Homo sapiens: one gene and its partners. The protein of the gene in region 3 interacts with the protein of the main gene of each other region in a biochemical or structural test. Each region holds a gene or a part of one and is shown on either strand. Other genes may lie near its edges.

Region 1 (7,243 bases), on a different chromosome or scaffold from region 3:
AGGGGGGATTGCTGGATAACCTTTAAGTATTAACAAAAGTTTCTGATGCAACATAACCTACAGACTTTTTACTACAACCTTTCATTTTCATTGCATTTCCTATCTAATTAGACAGCAATCAAACCCAGAAGTATAACGTCAGACAGGCCTGGGATAAAATGAGGGCTCCACCACTTAAAGCTATTTAACTGAGGACAAATTATACTTAACCTCTTTGGGTTTTTGGTTTCCTCTATAAAAGTTAACATTCTCATGAGGCTCTGTTGTGAGAATTATAAAATAATGCATATAAAGCACATGGCCTAGCACCACAGGCCTTCAGCAGAAGTTGGTTATGAATTTAGGCTAAGTATCCATCCCAGTTTGTCGGGGACAATCAAGGTTTGCACCTGCTGTCCAGGAATTATTAATGTTCCTTTTGTTCTTAAAAGTGTCTTGGTTAGGCAATAAATTATGTGGTTACCCTAATGATGATGATAATAATAATGAAAGGAGTCAATATCAATTAAAAGTATCATGTATCAATTATGAATTTTTGAATCTTAAAGGAAAAAAATCAACCACCACACACAAAGTAACGTAAAATTATACTCTCGTAAGCTATTCTGATATTTCATTTAGTTATCCAATGAACATTTAAATGTTATTTTACTTATACTCATGCCATTCCAACAATGATATAAGACAACAAATTTTTTGTTGTTGTTGTTCTATACAGGTATTGGTAAACTTCAGACATTATTTTAAAGAGTCAAATTCACAGATAAAGCACTGGTGAGTTCCAGGTATCCAGAAACATTACCCTTTTAATTCCCAGTGAAAAGTACCCATTCTTATCATGAAGAATACCCAACACCATCTAACATCTATCAATGAGCCCATCCAATTACAGGGCCTGCAAAATAGAACAATAAATATTTGTAAACATGCATTCTACACATAAATCATCAGGAGACGCAACAAAAAATAAATTACCTGACTGTTATGACATAGTATTGAAATACAATAAACTGGATTTTAGTTTTCTTCACTCTGCTCTAGAAAAAAAAAGAATCCATTATTCTTCCTCTTTAAAAAGATACACATTTTCTTTGAATTAGACACAACCTAAAAAAAAAAATACAGACACACCATAACCCAACCTAATTCAATATTAGTATTAGGGCATTTGGGGAGAGCAAGAAGGTCAGAGGGGACCAGGAGTTAGATAAAAGATGTCTTCTAAGACTGAGAGACAATTTACGTTTTATTATAAGCTTGCTTAAAATAAGCCTTTCCTTATCAGACCAGTAATTATTTTCAGATTCTGATAGTCACTTTCAAGGACTTATCTGGCACATTACACTAGCCTAAGGTAGGAACTAAAGTATTAAAATTCATCAGAACATCATGGACTAAAAAAATCTTTGTAACATTTTTCAGTAAGTGGAGTGTGTCCTAAAATCAAGTTTTAAAAAGTGGATTGGTCTTTCTAGCTACCTAAGCTATATTTCTACAGTTTAGAAAAGTCATGGGGGGGGAGGGGTTATAATTGTGCCAGTCCTCCAGGGAAGATACAATGTACTTAATGGGGTGATAAGTAGTTACTCTGTCTATAATCACGAAGAATGAAAGAAATGATTAGTAGCAGTAGGTTTATTATTTCTTCCCCCTTTCAATCAGTCCAAAACACTGCGGTTAATTCTGATTCAGGAAATGCGGGCTCCTTACTTCTGGCAAAAAATCATTGTGGGGTCTTGCAAATGGAAGATGACAATCTGATACAACTGCTTCCTCTTGCCCCAAAATGAAAAAAAAAATGACCTCAATAACAAGACTGCTAGGCCTCAGATTCCCAGACTAACCTGTGGAATAAGTATGGTGAAACTGTCTAGGGAAGGAACGTGGCTGTCTCCTCCATCTTGAAATTAATCAGCATAAGGGAAAAAGGGACCGAGTATTCAGGAAGCAGAAGCCCAACCGGTTAATACTAGTTACTAAGCTATGGCATGCGTGGCAGGTACCGTCTGCAGAAGCAGAGACCCCCCTAGGCTTTTTTTTTTTTTTTTAATGGGGGAGGGATTGAGTTGTTGGTGGATTAAACACAAATTAACTTGAAAATTTGGCCCAATTCCATCCCTTATCCAGGAGAACACAACAAACACCTAACGGCTTTTCCCTCTCTTTTGCGGGGGGATCCTTCCAGTGATACCTGGCAAAGGATATGCCAGGGTTATTCGAGCAAGGGAGTAAACCACATTTGCCTCAGATCCTCAGGGAAGATGTCATCGCGGCCCCAGGGGGCGCCTAATTGGTAATACCCTGCAGAAGGGCTCAAAATGAGGTTTTGGAAATCTAAAGGCCCAAGAGTTGCCAGCATCTCACTTGGGGCAGCCTGATTTTTTACTTCCCTTTTCCCAAACCCAAGCCCGCCATGGAAAACGCGGGGAGGTCAGGGAAGCCTCCAGAGAACAGAGAAGAAAAAGCCTGAGACGTTCTAAGATTCTGACGCCTGAGGCCAAAACTCAAAAACTGCCTCCCCCGATTTCCTAAGGCTCCGGAGGGCCTGGGCTGCAGCTCGCGCGGCCACCGAGAGGAAGTACTACCCACCTCCTTCCCCTTCAAAGAGCCTGTCGACTATACCACTCAACTAAAATGGCAGCGGCGACTACGCCACGGAGCCCCCCGCAGCAACGGGCCTGGGGTCCGGAGGCGGCGCTGAGCCTCTGCCACGACGCGTCACTCGGGCCATTTTGAGAGAACGCGGCAGCCGCGGCTCCGCTGTCTTCCTCTCGCTCTACATCATTTCTCACAGGATTCCCAAGTCTTCACTTACTAGGTTTTAGGGTCAGGATCCGACTCGGTTGGTTCGGCCGCCGCCGCCGAGGCTGCTCCGCACCTCCCTGGCCGCCGCTCTCAAGCCCGCCTCCAATGAGTAGCTGGTTGAGACCCGCCTCTAGCCCAGCGCCTGCTCGGAGACGTTGCTCAGGCAGCCATTATCTTCCCCATTGTTACCAAGCAGCGACAGGAAACGACTGCCCACAACAGGAAGTGATGATGCCGCGTCCCGGCACCGCAGCCCCACTCCCAGCCTATTAGCCAATCCCAGTCGATTCCTCGAAAAGGCTCCGCGGGAGGAGGAGGGGGACGGCAGACGACGCGGCAAGGCGGGCGGCGGTTTGGAAAAGGAAAGCTGTTATGACGCCCACCATGTGACAGGCCCCACCCTCCTCCGCCATTTTGAATTGTGGCGAGAAATTTGCGTTCTGAGAATTGTGGGAACCTTCGCTTTCCCATTTTGAAAACTGAAGGACGTCACGGTCTGACTGCTTGAAGACATTTTCAGAGAGAGAGAAATGTGATATTAGTCTACCCTGACATCACATCAGTTCACACAATCCGTGCAGACCAGTTCAAAAAGTAGCCTGCGTTTTATTCAACATGTATTTACACAGTGCCAACTGCATGTCAAGCACCATTGTAGCTGCTTAGGAAATTAAAATAGACCAAAATTAAGAAAGAAAACAGGCCACGTTCGGTGGCTCACGCCTGTAATCCCAGCACTTTGGGAAGCCGAAGCGGGCGGATCACCTGAGGTCAGGAGTTCGAGACCAGCCTGGCCAACATGGTGAAACCCAGTCTCTACTAAAAATACGAAAATTAGCCGGGCGTGGTGGCGGGCGCCTGTAATCTCTGCTAATCGGGAGGCTGAGGCAGGAGAATAGCTGAACCCAGGAGGCGAAGATTGCAGTGAGCCGGGATCTCGCCACTGCACTCTAGCCTGGGTGACAGAGCAAGGCTGTGTCTCAAAAAAAAAAAAAAAAAAAAAAAGAAAACAGATCAAAATCCCAGTTCTCTTGAGTCTTTATAGGGGCCAGGGACAATAATTTAGAAAAAATCAAACATAAATACATATCATGTTAGTGATAAATGCCAAGGAGAAAAATCAAGGAAGGGGGACAGAAGAGTTCCTTGTAGGGACAAACGGATTCGTGATGTTTAAAAGACTGATAACTTTGAGGCATTAACTCTAAAGTATTCGAAAAAGGGCGGTGATTGTAAAAGGGTGGGAAAATCTGATAACGTTGGGATTTGTAAAAGGGCAGTTAAAGAAGGCCTTTCTTAGGTAGTAATGCCTGAAAGAATTGAGGGAACTCGCCACACAGCATGCCACTCCCATTGTCACAGTTAAAGGAAAACCTTACCCAAGTTTTTAGATTCTTTTCCTTTTCCCAATTTTTCTGTTTTCCAATAGCATGCCAGCTATGCTGGCTTTGTTACGGTTTTTCCAACAAAGCTAACTTCTTCCTACTTCAACTACTTTACCTTTGCTGGAATATTTTACTTTCATATCTTTGCTTTCATCATCCAAGCCTCGCAATTATTAACTTCCTAGAGAAGCCTTCCCTGACCACCCTACCTAAAATAACTTCTTCCTGAAGGCGGAAAAAGGTCTGAGGAAAAAAAAAAAAAGAAAAAAGTAATAACGACTTCTCCCATCTCCTTACCTGCTTACTTTTCTTGTAAAACACTTAATCTGAAAGTAAGTTATTTATTTGTTTGTTTACTTCACCCTTTCTGAGCAGTAAACCTCTCTGTTTTGTTCACTGTTGTGTCCCCAGCGACCACATAGTAAGCCCTCAAAATACTTTGGGAGAATTACCCCCTCACCATGATGGATGTTATATCAGCCTGGAATATAAGTATTTCACTCCAAGCAGTTAAAACAATATCCCTCATACTTACCTGCCCAACTCCCTAGAAGACTCATTGATATTGTCATTTTTGGCAGAGGGATACATGATTTAGGCGCTGTGTCTCTACTCAGGTTTTTGTCTTATTTTACATAATCATGTACTAGAACGATTACCTAGAACGTGTAAAAGGAATTCTTCAGTAGCCTGCAATTGCCATTAAGCCTGATATTCTGATTATGGCAATAACATTAGCCACTCCTTAACGTATTCTTGAGGCTTATGTGGCTTAATCTAAAATATAAAATCATAAAAGAAGTGGAAGAAAATACAGGTTACTATTTCTGTCCTTTCTTCCTTCCTTCCTTCCTTCCTTCCTTCCTTCCTTCCTTCCTTCCTTCCTTCTTTCTTTCTTTTTTTTTTTTGATGGAGTCTTGCTTTGTTGCCCAGGCTGGAGTCCAGTGGCATGATCTCAGCTCACTGCAACCTCCGTCTCCTGGGTTCAAGCGATTCTCCTACCTCAGCCTCCCCAGTAGCTGGGATTGCAGGCATGCACCACCACGCCTGGCTAATTTTTGTATTTTTAGTAGAGATGAGGTTTCACCATGTTGGGCAGCCTGGTCTCCAACTCCTGACTTCATGATCCGCCTGCCTGGGCCTCCCAAAGTGTTGGGATTACAGGCGTGAGCCACTGTCCAGGCCTAGGTTAATATTTCTATAGCCTTGGGGATGCAGAAGCACTTTTGAAATACAACACAAAATCCATAATGGGAAAGACTAATAAGTACAACTTCATAAATAAAAGTAAACCTTCTAAATGTCAAAATACAAGGTTGGTAAAGTTAAAAGACAAATGATAAATTGAAAAAAATCATTTCATAATGACATATTAGAGCCAAGGGGTAATATCTTTACTTAATAAAAAGACGAAACACTAGCAAAAATGTTACATATGTGATAAACACATATGGCTAATATCAGCCTATAAAGAGTTGTTAAACATTGATTTTTAAAAAGATAAATACCGGCCGGGCGCAGGGGCTCACACCTGTAATCCCAGCACTTTGGGAGGCCAAGGCAGGCGGATCACAAGGTCAGGAGATCAAGACCAGCCTGGCCAATATGGTGAAACCCCGTCTCTACTAAAAAAAATACAAAAATTAGCTGGGCGTGGTGGCGTACTCACTCCTGTAGTCCCAGCTACTTGGGAGGCTGAGGAAAAGGAATTGATTGAACCCGGGAGGCAGAGGTTGGAGTGAGCCGAGATCATGCCACTGCACTCCAGCCTGGGTAACAGCAAGACTGCATCTCAAAAAAAAAAAAAAAAAAAAAAGAGATAAATACCTCCATTTCAAAATGTGCAAGGAACATGAATGGATAATTCATAAAAGGATAAAACACGTGGCTGATAAGCATATGACAATATATTCTTTTTTTCTTGTTAGTAAATAACCTTGTACTTGAAAATATATTCAGCCTCACTAGTAATTAATCAAAAATAAAAACAATGAGGTACAACTATTATGTATCCATAATAATTAAAAAACAATAGCTGGGTTCGGTGGCTCACGCCTGTAATCCCAGCACTTTGGGAGGCTGAGGCGGGTGGATTGCCTGAGGTCAGGAGTTTGAGACCAGCCTGGCCAACATGGTGAAACCCCGTATCTACTAAAACTTCAGAAAAAAAATTAGTTGGGCGTGGTGGTGGGCACCTATAATCCCAGCTACTCGGGAGGCTGAGGCAGGAGAATCGCTTGAACCGGGAGGCAGAGGTTGCAGTGAGCCGAGATTGCGACATTGCACTCCAGCCTGGGCAACAAGAGTGAAACTCTGTCTCAAAAAAACAAAACAGAAAAATTTTATGAACTAAAAAATTTTTTAAAAAGTTCCTTTTTTTGCCTGTTAGAATGTCAAGGATAAAAAATCGATAATATTAATTGTTGATGAAGATCCTATGAAATGGGCACATTTGTATTGCCAGTGGGACAAATTGATATCAGTTTTCTTTTTTTTTTTTTTTTTGAGACAGAGTCTCACTCTGTCACCAGGCTGGAGTGCAGTGGCGCAATGTCGGCTCACCGCAACCTCCACCTCCTGGGTGCAAGCAATTCTCCTGCCTCAGCCCCCCGAGTAGCTGGGATTACAGGCGTGCGCCACCACACCCAGCTAATTTTTGTAGTTTTATTAGAGACGGATTTTCGCCATGTTGGATAGGATGGTCTCGATCTCTTGACCTTGTGATCCGCCCACCTCAGCCTCCCAAAGTGCTGGGATTACAGGCATGAGCCACCACTCCCAGTTTTCTTAAGGCAATTTGGTAATGTGTTTCAAAAGACTCATATTCATAGTATTTGACAAACATGTCCAGGTACAGAAATTTATTTTAAGGAAAGAAGTGGACAAATTTGCAAATATGTATGTAATGAATGTGCAAAGATGCTAATTACAGTGTGGTTTATAACATCGAAATATTGACAAATCAGAAAAAATAACCATCCAACAACAATTAGTTATAGTATAACCACATAATAGACTACCATGTAGCATTAAAAATAAGTACCTAGAGCTGG
Region 2 (7,026 bases), on a different chromosome or scaffold from region 3:
ATGAAGATATTTTGACCGCTATTTAGAAGAGTGACCTCATAAATCTTTTAGCAAAGTAGACACACATACCTACCACATTTCTTAAAAGTAGATTCGTATTTTGATTTGAGATTGTTGAAAAGCATGGTATGTTTGGAGTGCACTTAGTTATGTCCCATCTCATAAAGACTGTTGAGCTCTCTGCACTGCTGATGATGAAGCATTGCATGAACCCAGAAAACGGGGATGCCAAAGCACAGGGCTTAGGTGCTGTTCCTTGCGTCATCAGCAGAGGTCTGTCCACTTTGTAGAAGGTAAGGGGTTGAGATGTGGGCTTTGCTTGTGTGAATGTATGTGCTGTTTAATTTTTTCTGTGTGTTTCGGGCGGAGGTTTCTCTGGTGAGTTATAATTCATATTTACCCTGATTTAAGTCATGTCACTTTAGGTAGCCAGATTCAAAACCATCAGATGAAGGACTTTTGGTGTTAGAGGGATTAGCAGTTTAACAAAACTTCTGATTCATGGCCCAAGATCAGATTTGGTTTGGAATCAGAACACTTTGGACTAGTTTCTGCATCTGGCTTGAGTCCTTGTGGATTTCTTGTTTTATTTCTTTATTTTTGGCAATCTGTAGTGCATTTTGGCATAGTTTACTTATGAATGTTACCGCTAACTTTCTGAAATCTTTTATTCCATTTTAGAAAGGTATCATTTATTGAAAAGATTTTTCTACTGAACAAAATACTGGGATTGAATGGCAGCTTCTTATCACATTAGATATGACATTAAGTAATTTCGTTAGTAGTTAAAATGAAGCAAATGGCATAGAAATGAAGGCCAGGCTGACATAGGATAAATGGCACCTTCTCTCCTTATCCTGTACAAACACGGATAGTTGGCTACTTTTGAATGCCTCTTCTATACCAATGGTAAAAATCCGGCTTAATTGGGGCCACATTCTAGCCTAGTCACAATCAGTGGCTTGCATTATGTCCTTTGAGATGTGGCAGATCTGCTTATAGGTGCCAGTCACCACGGCTCCCTGCTGGCTTGGGGGTCTTTCTACTCATTTACATATAATTATCTACTTCTTAATCAACCATTAAGGTTAACTTTTGGCATGGATCCTGTATGCTTTTCAGTTTAAGATGCTGTCACTTTTAAGATGCGCCATGAGAGCAAAGTGCTAAGCCTTGTGCACATACTATGTCATTTAGTTCTCATGAGAACTGTGTGAGGTAGGCTGTGATTTACAGATGAGGAATGAAAGCTCAAAGAGGTTACGTGACCTGCATAAGGACACAAAACAAGTTAAGTTATGGAGCCAGCTATTTTGAATAGAAAGGCCTAGTTTTTAACATGCTGAATATCCTCCCCTTCTGACAAATGCCTTGAAAGGTCTTACTATCTAGATTATTTAAGATAATGTAAGAGAAATAAACACCACTGGTTGCAAACTGATGGCTGCTGGGCCCGATTTGACCAGGAACCCTGCTTAATGTGGTCTCTAGAGTGTTTTAAAGCTTGGAAATTTCATGAAAATGGTAAAAATCTGGCTTAATTGGGGCCACATTCTAACCTAGTTACAGTCAGTGGCTGGCATTATGTCCTTTGAGATGTGGCAGCTAGTTGTGCTATGGTTGCAGTCACCACTACTTTCTGTTGTCTTAGGGGTCTTTCTACTTGTTTACATATAATTATCCACTTCATAACAAACCTTTAAGGCTAACCTTTGGCGTGGATGCCATATTTCTTTCACTTTAGTGTGCTGTCACTTTTAAGATATGCCATTATTTCATGTACCACGAAGAAAAAATTGCTGTCAAGTTATGACATACTGTCCATCTTATGAAGCATCCTTATTTCAGAGAAGTTGAAATATGAGAAAAAGGATATTTTAGAATTGATGAATTACAGTGACTAGAAACCTGGGAAAACTCCATGCCATCAGTTTCAATATCCCCAATCATTCAGTACTTTTAAGTCAACGAGTAGTCAGATTTCTGCTTTTCTGTGTTTGAGGAAAGTGCTAGAAAAAGAGAAGTGCTCTTAAATAGGCATTAGCACAGAAGGAACTGGGGGCCTAGATCATAGCCAACTGGATGGCCGTCTGTAAGTGATTAAGAATAGTTGTTAGTTTTTAAAAAGTGGCCTGTGTGTATTTTCAAGAGATTACTTGGGAAACCCTATGTGCCATCTTTGCAGCTGTGCAAAACGGTGAGGACAAGATTGCTTTCAAAAATTGTGGTTTAGATTTTGCTTGGATCTCAAGGTGAATGCTGACAGGCCGTTTTCTGAAGAGAGAGAAGGCTTGCCCAGTCATGCCAAGTCCAAGTGCCTGTGTCGGGCCTAGATGCTGGATGGTAGACTGTATACCCAGGACATATAGGTAATGTTTGAGAAACAAATGTTAAAAGGACCTAGTTTTCATGGTGACATTTAAAATCAGTTTTTAAAATTCATGAATATAACATGTTGTTTTAAAATTTGATTATAGGGACCGGGTGCAGTGATCACTCCTGTAATCCTAGCATTTTGGGAGGCCGAGGCAGGAGAATCACTTGAGTTCAGGAGTTTGAGGCCAGGCTGGGCAACGTGGTGAAACCCCGTCTCTACAAAAAATAGAAAAGTTAGCCAAACATGGCGGCACGTGCCTGTAGTCCCAGCTACTTGGGAGGCTGAGGTGGAAGGATCACTTAAACCTGGAGGCAGAGGTTGCAGTGAGCCAAGATCATGCCACTGCACTCTAGCCTGGGCGACAGAGTGAGACCCTGTCTCCAAAAAAAAAAAAAAAAAAAAAAAGACTAATGAATAGAATTTATTTTCTTCAATGATGTAGTGTCTGTGGAATTTGTAGACATTGACATTTGAATTTTCATTATATTTAGTTTTATTAAATCAGAATGTTATGATTGTTTATTTCATTATTGAACATCAGTTTCCTTAATTTAAGGAATAAAAATAATTTTGCTCAGGCCAGACATAGTGGCTCACATCTGTAATCCCAGCACGTTGGAGGCCAAGGCTGGTGGATCACTTGAGGTCAGGAGTTTGAGACCAGCCCAGCCAACATGGTGAAACCCTGTCTCTACAAAATAAATAAATAAATAAATGAAAAAAAAATCAGCTGGGTGTGGTGGTGGACACCTGTAATCCCAGCTACTCTGGAGGCTGAGGCAGGAGAATAGCTTGAACCCTGAAGGCAGAGATTGCAGTGAGCCGAGATCGCACCACTGCACTCCAGACTGGGTGACAGAGTGAGACTCTGTCACAATAATAACAGGCTGGGGCAGTGGCTCATGCCCGTAATCCCAGCACTTTGGGAGGCCGAGGCTGGAGGATCACCTGAGGTCAGGAGTTTGAGACCAGCCTGGCCAACATGGTGAAACTCCGTCTTTACTAAAAATACAAAAATTAGCTGGGCTTGGTGGCAGGCAACTGTAATCCCAGTTACTCGGGAGGCTGAGGCAGGAGAATTGCTTGAACCTGGGAGGCAGAGGTTGCAGTGAGACAAGTTCGGGCCATTGTGCTCCAGCCTGGGCAACAAGAGCAAAACTAAAAATAAAAAATAAAAAAAGAATAGTAATAGTTTTGCTTAAAGGGTGAGGACAGTGACAAATGGTGATCCTCAGATGACTGTAGTTTCTTTACCATTACAGAATGCAATTCAAATGAAAACCATTGCATGGTACTCAGGCATTTCTTCAATGCAGTGTGTGCCCACATCACCAGGAAGCTTACTTGGGAAAGTTTGTTTTGGGATTCTGGAGTACCTCAATATATCTGGTATATTTTCCCAAGAAAAGTGAATAATCTTGGGGGGCCGAGGTGGACAGATTGCTTGAGCCCAGGAGTTTGACACCAGCCTGGGCAATGTGGTGAAACCCCACCTCTACAAAAAATACAAAAACTTAGTTGCGTGTTGTGGCACGCACCTGTGGTCCTGGCTGCTGGGGAGGCTGAGGTGGGAGGATGGCTTGAGCCTGGGAGGTTGAGGCTGCAGTGAGCCATGATCATGCCACTGCACTCCAGCCTGGGTGACAGAGCAAGACACTGTCTCAGAAAACAAAGGCAAACAAACAAAGATCACCCCAAAGAAGAACTCCCAACATATTAAAAGTCATTGAGTTTTGTACCCTTCAAATGGATGAATTGTGTTGTGTATGAATTACATCTGAATAAAACTGTTTAAAAATATTAAGAATGATTGAGTGTGACATTATTGCAGCAGTACATTGGAGTTTCTGCTAAATTACTTTTGCATTCATTTCAAAAGGAAGCAACTATGCCCATTGCTAATTTAATAACCTGTTTGCTTGTGCGGTGTTTAAAATGGCATCATGAAAACATGGCAATGTGTGATAGATTAAGAGCCAATTAAATTTTTTATTTTGAGTTACAAGATCTGCATTAAACAGATTTTATTGTTGCCCTTGAATTTCCAGTCTTAGATGAGTAGCAGCAGTGAAAAAAAGAGATCCTAACTTAAGAGTTTTCAAGCTTTTTGATGTTGCAGGTATTTGAATAAGTGGGTCTGTCTTACTGAAATATTTGTTAATTAGCGATAAAGCAAACTATATGTTGATCTTTTGGTAGTCCATGCTAAGGAGGATTAGAATAATATATAAATAATATAATGGTAATAAGTATCAGGGCAGGAGGATTAAAGAAGGGTGGAAGAAGTGTGACAAAATGTTACTTTCTGTTTTTACATTGTTTCTCTTCCAGGTCACAACTGTATTTCAAATGTATTTCATTTTCAGACTATAGGTGGCAATGTTTGTGCTGTTCACTGTTTAATGTTACTGTTGGCTCGGGTGTTGCTTGTTGCTGGAATATGGAAATGATAGCATAATTTAGAGTTGAGAATAAAAAAAACTAGATTTAGAAAACTAGAAACTAGATTTAGATTTAGTAGAGACTTTCTAAATAGTCCTAGTTCTGCTGTGTGGACCCTTCTGTAACTTTCTGTTACTCTGAGAAGGAGCTGATAATTATCACAACTACTGGTGTTTGATTAGCAGAGACATTCTTGATTCCTGATGCAAGACCGTGGCTGAAGTTGTAGCAGGGCGTTTGGTGGTTGGCGATGTAAAGATCTGGGCCTCTTGTTTCATGAATAATAGAATCTCACTATGATTGTAATATTTTGTTTTGAACTGGAGTGCTGATTATTGTAATCCCTTTAGGTGAGAAAAGCCTTATTATATAAGTGTATCTGGGGTAACTAGCTTAAATTTGACACTCCAGTCAACTTTTTGTCCCTGACTTCAGTCCTGCATTGATTCAAAACGCACCAAGTTAAATGTCAAGGCTCTCAGATTCCCTTGCTGTCATCAAATTCAGTGTTTGGTGACTTCTTGGCAGGCAGACATCTACCAAGAGATTTTGTATTCTTTTTATACCTCCTATTCACCAAAAGAAAAGGGCCATTCAAAAGTGAGTTTTTCTTTTTTTTTTTTTTTAAGTTTAAAAAGCTATGATGTGGCCACCCATGGTGGCTCATGCCTATAATCCTAGCACTTTGGGAGGCCAGGGCAGGCAGATCACTTCAGGCCAGGAGTTCAAGACCAGCCTGACCAACATGGCAAAACCCCGTTTCTACTAAAAATACAAAAATTAGCTGGGCGTCGTGGCGTGCCCCTGTAATCCCAGCTACTTGGGAGGCTGAAGCAGGAGAATCGCTTGAACCTGGGAGATGGAGGTTGTGGTGAGCTGAGATTGCAACTCTGCACTCCACCCTGGGTGACAGAGTGAGACTTTGTCTCAAAAAAAAGCTGTGATGTGAAACCTGTTCTGTGAAGGTGGAACTTGGAAAGGCTTGTAAGGATGGTGGTCCCATGAAGAGGATGAACAAACCAAGGGAACTGTCCTCTTGCTGGTTTGGGTGATGTCCCATCACCTGTCACTTTGTTTGTTTGGGCTGCAGTGGACCAATGGTTTCCCAGGCACACTGAAGTGACATGTAGATGGATTGCTTGAGTGGCTCCGGCATGTTTCCATCTCCTGTCTACCAGGCAGAGACCGTGTTCCCTGTTTTGAGGGGATCCAGAAGTGCAGTGACAAGGGCCTGATTTGCATCTCCAGCTCCTGGTCTTGCCTGTGTTAACAATTTTTTTTTTTTCTTTCCAGATGGAGTCTCACTCTGTCGCCCAGGCTGGAGTGCAGTGGTGCAATCTCGGCTCACTGCAAGCTCTGCCTCCCGGGTTCACGCCATTCGCCTGCCTCAGCCTCCCAAGTAGCTGGGACTACAGGTGCCCACCACCACGCCCGGCTAATTTTTTTGTATTTTTAGTAGAGACGGGGTTTCACCATGTTAGGCAGGATGGTCTCGAACTCCTGACCTTGTGATCCACCTGCCTCGGCCTCCCAAAGTGCTGGGATTACAGGCATGAGCCACCGTGCCCGGCCAACAATTTTTACATTCTAATTAATTTCCAGTTTCCAACCTGACTCAAGGTTTAGCTCTTCGTCTCTTGGGTGCAGTTTTGGATCATGTCTTATAATGTATATTTAAAAGTGTGTTGTAAAGCTGGAATTCCCATTGTGGGTAAATGCTGAGATTGTTGTAATACTGAGAAGTGCACTTGGGAACCATGGCCAACACTGCCCTAGCTGACCGGAGGTTGCACTGAGTTGTCCCCTTTGAACATCTGTTATGAATGAATGTTGGAAAATGCAAAGCCAATCATTTCTTTTACCTGACCTATGTGATGTTAAGTTTTAGTTTTATGTTTTGGCAAGTGAGTGTTGGATGTCACTAATGTGAGGAGGCCGGTGAGGGCAGACTTTGGGTCAGAGGTAATGTAGGAGATGAAGACCCTTTCTATTAATTTTTCTTGTTTAATTGAAGATGTTCGTGTTGAATGGGTTTTATTTACATGTATAAGTTCTTTTTTTCTTAATGCTGGAAGTTACTTTGGTTTTTCAGAAAATGCAAGTAACCCTAATCTATTTAGAGAATTACTTTGCTTAGTAAGCACTCAGTACTATTTAGTAATGGGGAAAAAATGTGTTTGTGTCCCACAGCGTGACAGGCTCCACAA
Region 3 (7,263 bases):
GTGGTTTCACCATGCTGGCCAGGCTGGTCTCAAACTCCTGACCCCGTAATCTGCCCACCTTGGCGTCCCAAAGTGCTGGGATTACAGGCATGAGCCACCGCACTTGGCTAGAGATGGGGTCTTTCTGTGATGCCAAGGCTGGTCTAGAATTCCTGGCCTCAGGTGATCCTCCCACCTCCACCACCCAAGTTGCTGAGATCACAAGCATGAGCCATCACAATTGGCCTTGGAATAATTTTAGATTACAAGAAAGTTGAAAAGATAGTACAGAGATTCTTTTTTTTTTTTTTTTTTTTGAGACGGAGTTTCGCTCTTGTTGCCCAGGCTGGAGTGCAATGGTGTGATCTTGGCTCACTGCAACCTTCGCCTCCTGGGTTCAAGCTATTCTTCTGCCTCAGCCTCCTGAGTAGGCGGGATTACAGGCATGCACCACCATGCCTGGCTAATTTTGTATTTTTGGTAGAGACGGGGTTCTCCATGTTGGTCAGGCTGGTCTCGAACTCCTGACCTCAGGTGAGCTGCCTGCCTTGGCCTCCCAAAGTGCTGGGATTACAGGTTTGAGCAATCGCACCCGGCCCTGTACAGAGATTCTTGTATACTCTTTACTCAACTTCCACTAATGTTAACATCATACATTACCATATGGCTATGTCAAAACTGAGAAATTAGCATTGTTATAATACCATTAACTAAATTACAGAATTTATTTATATTTCACTAGGTATGCCCTTTTGGTTCTAGGATCCAATTCAGGATACCACATTGCATTTAGCGTGGTGCTTCTTTTTTTTTTTTTTTTTTTTTTTGAGACAGAGTCTGGCTCTGTTGCCCAGGCTGGAGTGCAGTGGTGCAATCTTGGGTCACTGCAAACTTCGCCTCCTGGGTTTGAGCAATTCTCCTGCCTCAGTCTCCCGAGTAGCTGAGATTACAGGTGCCCGCCACTATGCCCAGTTAATGTTTTGTATTTTTAATAGAGACAGGGTTTCACCATGTTGGCCAGGCTGGTCTCCAACTCCTGACCTCAAGTGATCGGCCCACCTCAGCTTCCCAAAGTGCTGGGATTACAGGTGTGAGCCACCGTGACTGGCCTCGCATGGCGCTTCTTATTCACTTAAAATATATCCTGGAGATTGTTTCATATCAGTTAATATGCAGTTGTCTCATTAGAAGGACTACAGAATGAATTCCTAGAAGTGAAATTGCAGGAGCAGTGATTATGTGCATTTAAAGATTACCAAACCCTCTCCCTTGAAGAAATTACCAGACCCTTGTCCGGTGCAGTGGCTCACACCTTTAATCCCAGCTCTCAGGGAGGCAGAGGCGCGAGGATACCTTGAGCCCAGGAGTTTGAGACCTGCCTGGGCAGTATAGCGAGACCCCGTTCTCCACAGAAAGGGGGGAAAAAAGACAAAAAAAAAAAAAAAAAAAAAAAAGAAAGAAATTACCAGACCTTTTTTTGGAGAGGGGGAATTGTCTTTTTGTGGTTTTTCTCTTGAGACAGAGTCACCCTCTGTCACCCAGGCTGGAGTGCAGTGGTGTGATCTCCGCTCACTGCAACCTCCGCCTCCTGGGTTCAAGCGATTCTCCTGCCTCAACCTCCCAAGTAGTTGGGACTACAGCGCACGCCACCACACCCAGCTAAGTTTTTGTATTTTAGTAGAGTCGGGGGTCTCACCATGTTGCCCAGGCTGGTCTCGAATTCCTGAGCTCAAGCGATCCGCCCGCCTCGGCCTCCCAAAGTGCTGGGATTACAGACATAAATCAGGGCGCCCGGCCTGGACCCTTCTAACTGGTCCCCCTTTGAGTATTCCAAGTTTCTTCACATTCCAAGATTAGGATTGGACAGTGATAATGTAAAGTGCTCAAAAAGTTTTTGCACTCTTCAAAATAATTTTTTTAAGTCTACTGGCACAAATACATATAGCATTGCGTGATTTACATTACACCAATAATTCCTTGTACCATGACCTACGTATATGGTTGAGTCCTCTTAGGACCACTAGGGGGCTCTGCTAGAAGGGTTTATATAATTTATGTCAGCCCACTTAGGGGAAATGTTTTGAGATGATATTTTCGAATTCTGAACTCTTAAAACTTGAGAGAGATAATCTAATCCAGTTTTCTCGTTTCGTAGATGAGGAAATAAAAGCTGGCAAGAGAACTGCCATGGGAGAGAACTGGAATTTTAAAATCTCCTCTTGGTTCCTGGGGCGGGAGTTTAAGAAATTCTCTTTTGCCTTGTGCCCCCACTGATTCGCCTCCATTGGCTATTTCCATGTTTGCCACCACAATTTTAATTACTTTTGGTAAAACCATGTATTTGTGATATTTTTATAATAGATATTTTACTGATTGGCTAGGTGAAGAAAGTGCATGAAGTATAAACTTCTGAAATGACACCCTTATTACTTATTCCAAAATGTTCTATTCAAAATGCTTCTCAGTACCAAACCATTATTACTATGCACCTTAGAAACCACTTTCTTTTTTAAAAATTATTATCTTTAGAGACAGGATTTCACCATAGGGCCCAGGTTGGTCTCAAACTCCTGGGCTCAAGTGATCTGCTCCCCCTCGGCCTTCCAAAGTGCTGGGATTACAGGCGTGAGCCACCGCGCCCGACCAGAAACCACTTTCTTTTGTTTGTTTGTTTTTTGTTTTTTTTTGAGACGGAGTCTCGCTCCGTTGCCCAGACTGGAGTGCAGTGGCGCAATCTCGCTCGCTGCAAGCTCCGCCTCCCGGGTTCACGCCATTCTCCTGCCTCAGCCTCCCGAGTAGCTGGGACTACAGGCGCCCGCCACCACGCCCAGCTATTTTTTTTATATTTTTTTAGTAGAGACGGGGTTTCACCGTGTTAGCCAGGATGGTCTTGATCTCCTGACCTCGTGATCCGCCCGCCTCCGCCTCCCAAAGTGCTGGGATTACAGGCGTGAGCCACCGCACCTGGCCCAGAAACCACTTTCAAACTTACTTTCCACTTAAAATATTTTATACTTTTTGTTTTGTTTTGTTTTGTTTGAGACAGAATCTTGCACTGTGGCCCAGGCTGGAGTGCAGTGGCGCGATCTCGCTCACTGCAACCTCCGACCCCCAGGTTCAAGCGATGTTCCTGCCTCAGCCTCCAGAATAGCTGGGATTACAGGTGCCTGCCACCACACCTGGCTGATTTTTGTATTTTTAGTAGAGATGGGGTTTCACCATGTTGGCCAGACTGGTCTCGGACTCCTGACCTCAAGCGATCCGCCGCGCCAGCAAAAACGTTTTAGTCTTATCTGTACTCATTTACTCATTCAATATTTATTGAGTGCCTACTATCACCAGGCACCTTTGAGGCCTAGGTTTACAGAAATAAGGCTCCCCCTCCCCCACCCCGAGTCCCCTGAAGGGTACTGTAATTGTTTCCATTTCTCCAATTTTCACTTTAATATATGTGAATTTTCACATGCTTCATTCAGTTCAGTGGTTCTCATAATGTGGTCCCGGAACCAGCACCAACAGCAGCAGCAACTGGGAGACTTGTTAGAAGCGCAGTCTTAGGCCCACCCTACACTCTAGGGATGGGCATAGGAGTGTGTGTGTGTGTGTGTGTGTGTGTGTGTGAGAGAGAGAGAGAGAGAGAGAGAGAGATTGTGTGTGTGTGTCAAGCTCGGTATTAAATAGGTCAAAGAGCAACATCTGGCTTCTAAACCCACCCTCAGGCCTCTCCACCGAGTACCTGTCTCAAACCCAATCTGATCCAACAATAACCAGCCTTAATTCAATAATCTGTGCTACCTGAGATGATGGGAATAATCGTGGTACTATAAATGTTGCAGAACAAAAACGACTGCAGTAGATTTTCTGGGGCTACACCAACTGAAAATGGGCCGGACCGAGATCCGGGAGAGCGTTTTCCTGCGCTAGACACGGCGTTCAGCCTCCGGGTTCCGGGTCTAGCTGAGTCAGGGCGGCGTTCCAGCCGAGTGCGGCGTCGGAAACCCGTTCGGTTGCGCCCGAACCTTCGGTCAGAGGCCAGCGCTGGAAGCCCAGACCACAGCACCCGGGTTTAAACAGGAGCGGAGGCGCCGGGAAGGGCCGGGGGGGCCGGCTAGGGCCGGCCAGCTTGGAAGCCGCACCCTCGCGGCCCCAGACGCCGGCAGGGCGGAGCCACGCGGCCGCAGCCCCAGCCGAGACGCGAGCTCGTGGCTCGGGCGTATGGGGGCTCCAACGGGAGCGGCTGCGCCGCCCGGCCGGGTCAACGTCGTGCGCATGCGCCGACCCGGCGCCATTTTGGTGGCCGGGCGCGGAGGTGATTCCACACTGAGGCGAGCGCGGCGGCCGGGGTGGTAGTGGCAGTGTTCGTGTGCTCAGGTCTGAATCGCCGAGGGAGGAGGCGGTGGAGGAAGAGGTGGCGGCGGTGGCGGTGGTCGTAGCGGTGGCGGAGGAGGCGGGTACGAATCAGCTGCGGGCGGAGACATGGCCAACATCGCGGTGCAGCGAATCAAGCGGGAGTTCAAGGAGGTGCTGAAGAGCGAGGAGGTCAGAAATGAACTCCCGGATATCCCCCACCTCTGCCTGGGGCGGGAGGGTCCTCCCAGCTGCGACCCCGATATCCCCGGTAGTCCCTGGGTGGTCCTCCTTGCGGCCGCCCTTCTGCCTGTGAGGAAGCAGCAGTGTTCCCCTCCTCCTTCCGCCGCCTTCCCCTCCCCTCCCAGAGCGCTAGGATGGACGGTCTCGCGGGCGGGTGGTCTGGGGTGGAACATGGTTTGGGGAGGTGATGGACAGGGGGCAACTCCTCGGAGGGATGGAAGCTCACAAGAGAACCCGAGGCGGTGGCCGCAGCTGGAAATGTGGCTGTGGGGTGGGGAGGGAGCAGGCCGAGCCTGAGAAAACCCGGGAAGTGGGTTGGGGGAAGGGGAAAGGTGGTAACTGGATCCCAAGAGCAGTGCTGCTCGAAGGCCCACACTTTTGAGGGTATTCGGGGTTATTGCCTGTCAGGCCTTCACTGTTCTTTTCTTGGGGAAGGAGCAGTGAGTCCTTAGGTATTGATTAAAAAGGAAGGACATTCAGAGTTAGTCCTTCTTAGTTGGGTGTTAGGAGTCAAAGGGAGACATAATAGAATACTGTCTTATTTGGTGGCAGGGGTAAGGGAATTTTCACCTGAGTTAGCAAGTTAATTCCAAATAAGATAATTATCTCTTTTCCACTTAACCCCCAAATTCCTAGGCCTCATCTTTATTGACATCTCAATCTTTTGAGTGGGCAAAGGCAAGGTGTTTGGTGTATTAAAGACATGTAAATATTTTTAGTTAGGAAACAAATAATGGAATGTATGAGTAGCTTATTTCAAAATATTGTTTACAAGTTACAGATCAGAGAGACTGTCTTAAGACAGTGCCTCTGTGACTCGTGTTGTGCCACGAAACTTCATTATGATGTCCCTCATAGTTAACTTGATTCTTACTTTTGAAAAGCAGACCTATTAAAAATGTGAAATTTCACCAGATTAATACATTGTTTCATCTCCTTATTGAGATTTATCACGACTTAACAGATTTTCAAAAAAGTTGCCTCCCGTTGCTCTTAAGTCCTGCAGAATTTAGATACATTTGTACTACGTTTATTTATGTAAGATATTCACAGTGCTCTAGTAATTTGACTCAAAATTATGCAAGTATTAGTACAGTTTCTCATACCAAGATCAACAAGAATGCCAGATTGTCTTCCCCACATGAATTAAACAAAAAGTAATACAGAAAATGATTATTTTCAAGATTCACATACCATTATTGAATATATCATTGCTATTTGTGTTTTTCTTTTACAGTTAGTACTTTAATAGTGTCAATAATAATTTGTGAAATTCAGCATTCTAAGTATGTGATGAGTATACATGGAGAAAAAATTATTTAAAATTCAAAAATGACAACAGACTTATTGAAAGTAGTATATAAGTCATGGTCGGTTTTACAGAGCATGTGTATGAACTCTGACCTCTATGTTTGTTCATATGCCAAAACTCTGAATGGAAGGATGACTTTGTATTTTGTGGTACAATGCAGAAATAGAGTCATAAGTGTCTGTACTGATACAATGAAACAGCAATTTTAACTTATTTAATATGAAAATGTATTCCAGGTTAGTTGACATATATACTCCTAATGAAAGCAGTTGTTGTTGCCAACAACTGAAAACATTTCTTGTTTAATAAGGTTGTACAAGCCTGAAACTTAATAGACTTTTAATGCTTTATTTTCTGTTACTTACGGTAACAGAAACAGTAAGTTACTGCTCTGGTAATTAATGTGGTCTCTTTGCTTTTTATGAGCTGACTTTTCACCGTGGTATTCTTAGTACTAAGTTGAAGATTACCAGAAATACTTGTATTGCTCTCTAGTAATGCATATTAAAAAAACACTGCTCTTTATACGTAAGGGATGTTGAAGCCTTACTTCAGATAAGCATCAAAAGTGTTTCAGAAGAAGAAAACAGGAAATGCAAACAGACAGGTTTTTTGTTGTTTTTGTTGTTTGTTTGTTTTGTTTTGTTTTGTTTAGAACAGTACCTGTATAAATATGGAAGGAAACTTCTGGGAAAATAAGTTGGAAAGAACATTTAGGAAAGGGTCACATCATTTAATCTTGGAATAAATATAACCAATAAATAGCTTATTTTCACCAGTATTTTTTGATATTTTAGTAGCCCCAGTTCTATAAGTGTATTGTTATTTTCAACTCATTGAAGACTTGTAGTATAGTCCATGTGTTTCCTTTTTAAGGGTGTAAATACAGTCTTTTGAATGGCTGATCAAATAAATGTTTCATCATGTCACTTTTTTGGTAAATCAGCACTTTACCGAAGTTTATTTCATGTGTTTGTATGCTTGTGTTTACTAAGAACACTGGTTGATTTAAGGACTTTTTGGGGTGGCCTTATAAGAGCCTTTGTAAAGATAGCTGACGCTTACTGGATTCTGGTTATGAGAGATTATAAGTGGCCGTTCTTAGAGTGTGTTAAAATACAGCCAACAAGATAAATGTGAAAAAGCAAGGTGCAGAATAGTGTGGAAGAGGCCATTTGTGTCAAAAAGAAGGGCATGTGTGTATTTGCCTGTATGGGTAAAAGGTTTCATGAGAAATTGGTAAAATTGATTGCTTTCTGTGTAGAGAGTTGGGTGTCTGGGGTATAGATATTTTTTGAATTTTGTGTCATACAAATGTGATTTACTTAAAGGCATCATTTGGCCTCTTTCCCTTAAGACAGTGTTTGGAAATTTGTCAGATG

What was found.
Region 1: the proteins of UBE2K (region 3) and RLIM form a complex in vitro, tested with the Homo sapiens proteins (2 studies listed by BioGRID).
Region 2: the proteins of UBE2K (region 3) and NEDD4L form a complex in vitro, tested with the Homo sapiens proteins (2 studies listed by BioGRID).

What each region holds. Positions count from the first base shown.
Region 1 is NC_000023.11:74,611,607-74,618,849, forward strand, and holds the start of RLIM (E3 ubiquitin-protein ligase RLIM), read right to left. Parts: upstream 3,019-7,243; 5' UTR 2,816-3,018; intron 1,038-2,815; exon of another isoform or gene 976-1,037; intron 1-975. UniProt on the Homo sapiens protein: E3 ubiquitin-protein ligase.
Region 2 is NC_000018.10:58,047,218-58,054,243, forward strand, and holds part of NEDD4L (E3 ubiquitin-protein ligase NEDD4-like), read left to right. Parts: intron 1-8; exon of another isoform or gene 9-293; intron 294-7,026. UniProt on the Homo sapiens protein: E3 ubiquitin-protein ligase that mediates the polyubiquitination of lysine and cysteine residues on target proteins and is thereby implicated in the regulation of various signaling pathways including autophagy, innate immunity or DNA repair.
Region 3 is NC_000004.12:39,693,873-39,701,135, forward strand, and holds the start of UBE2K (ubiquitin-conjugating enzyme E2 K), read left to right. Parts: upstream 1-4,263; 5' UTR 4,264-4,455; coding exon 4,456-4,518; intron 4,519-7,263. UniProt on the Homo sapiens protein: Accepts ubiquitin from the E1 complex and catalyzes its covalent attachment to other proteins. In vitro, in the presence or in the absence of BRCA1-BARD1 E3 ubiquitin-protein ligase complex, catalyzes the synthesis of 'Lys-48'-linked polyubiquitin chains.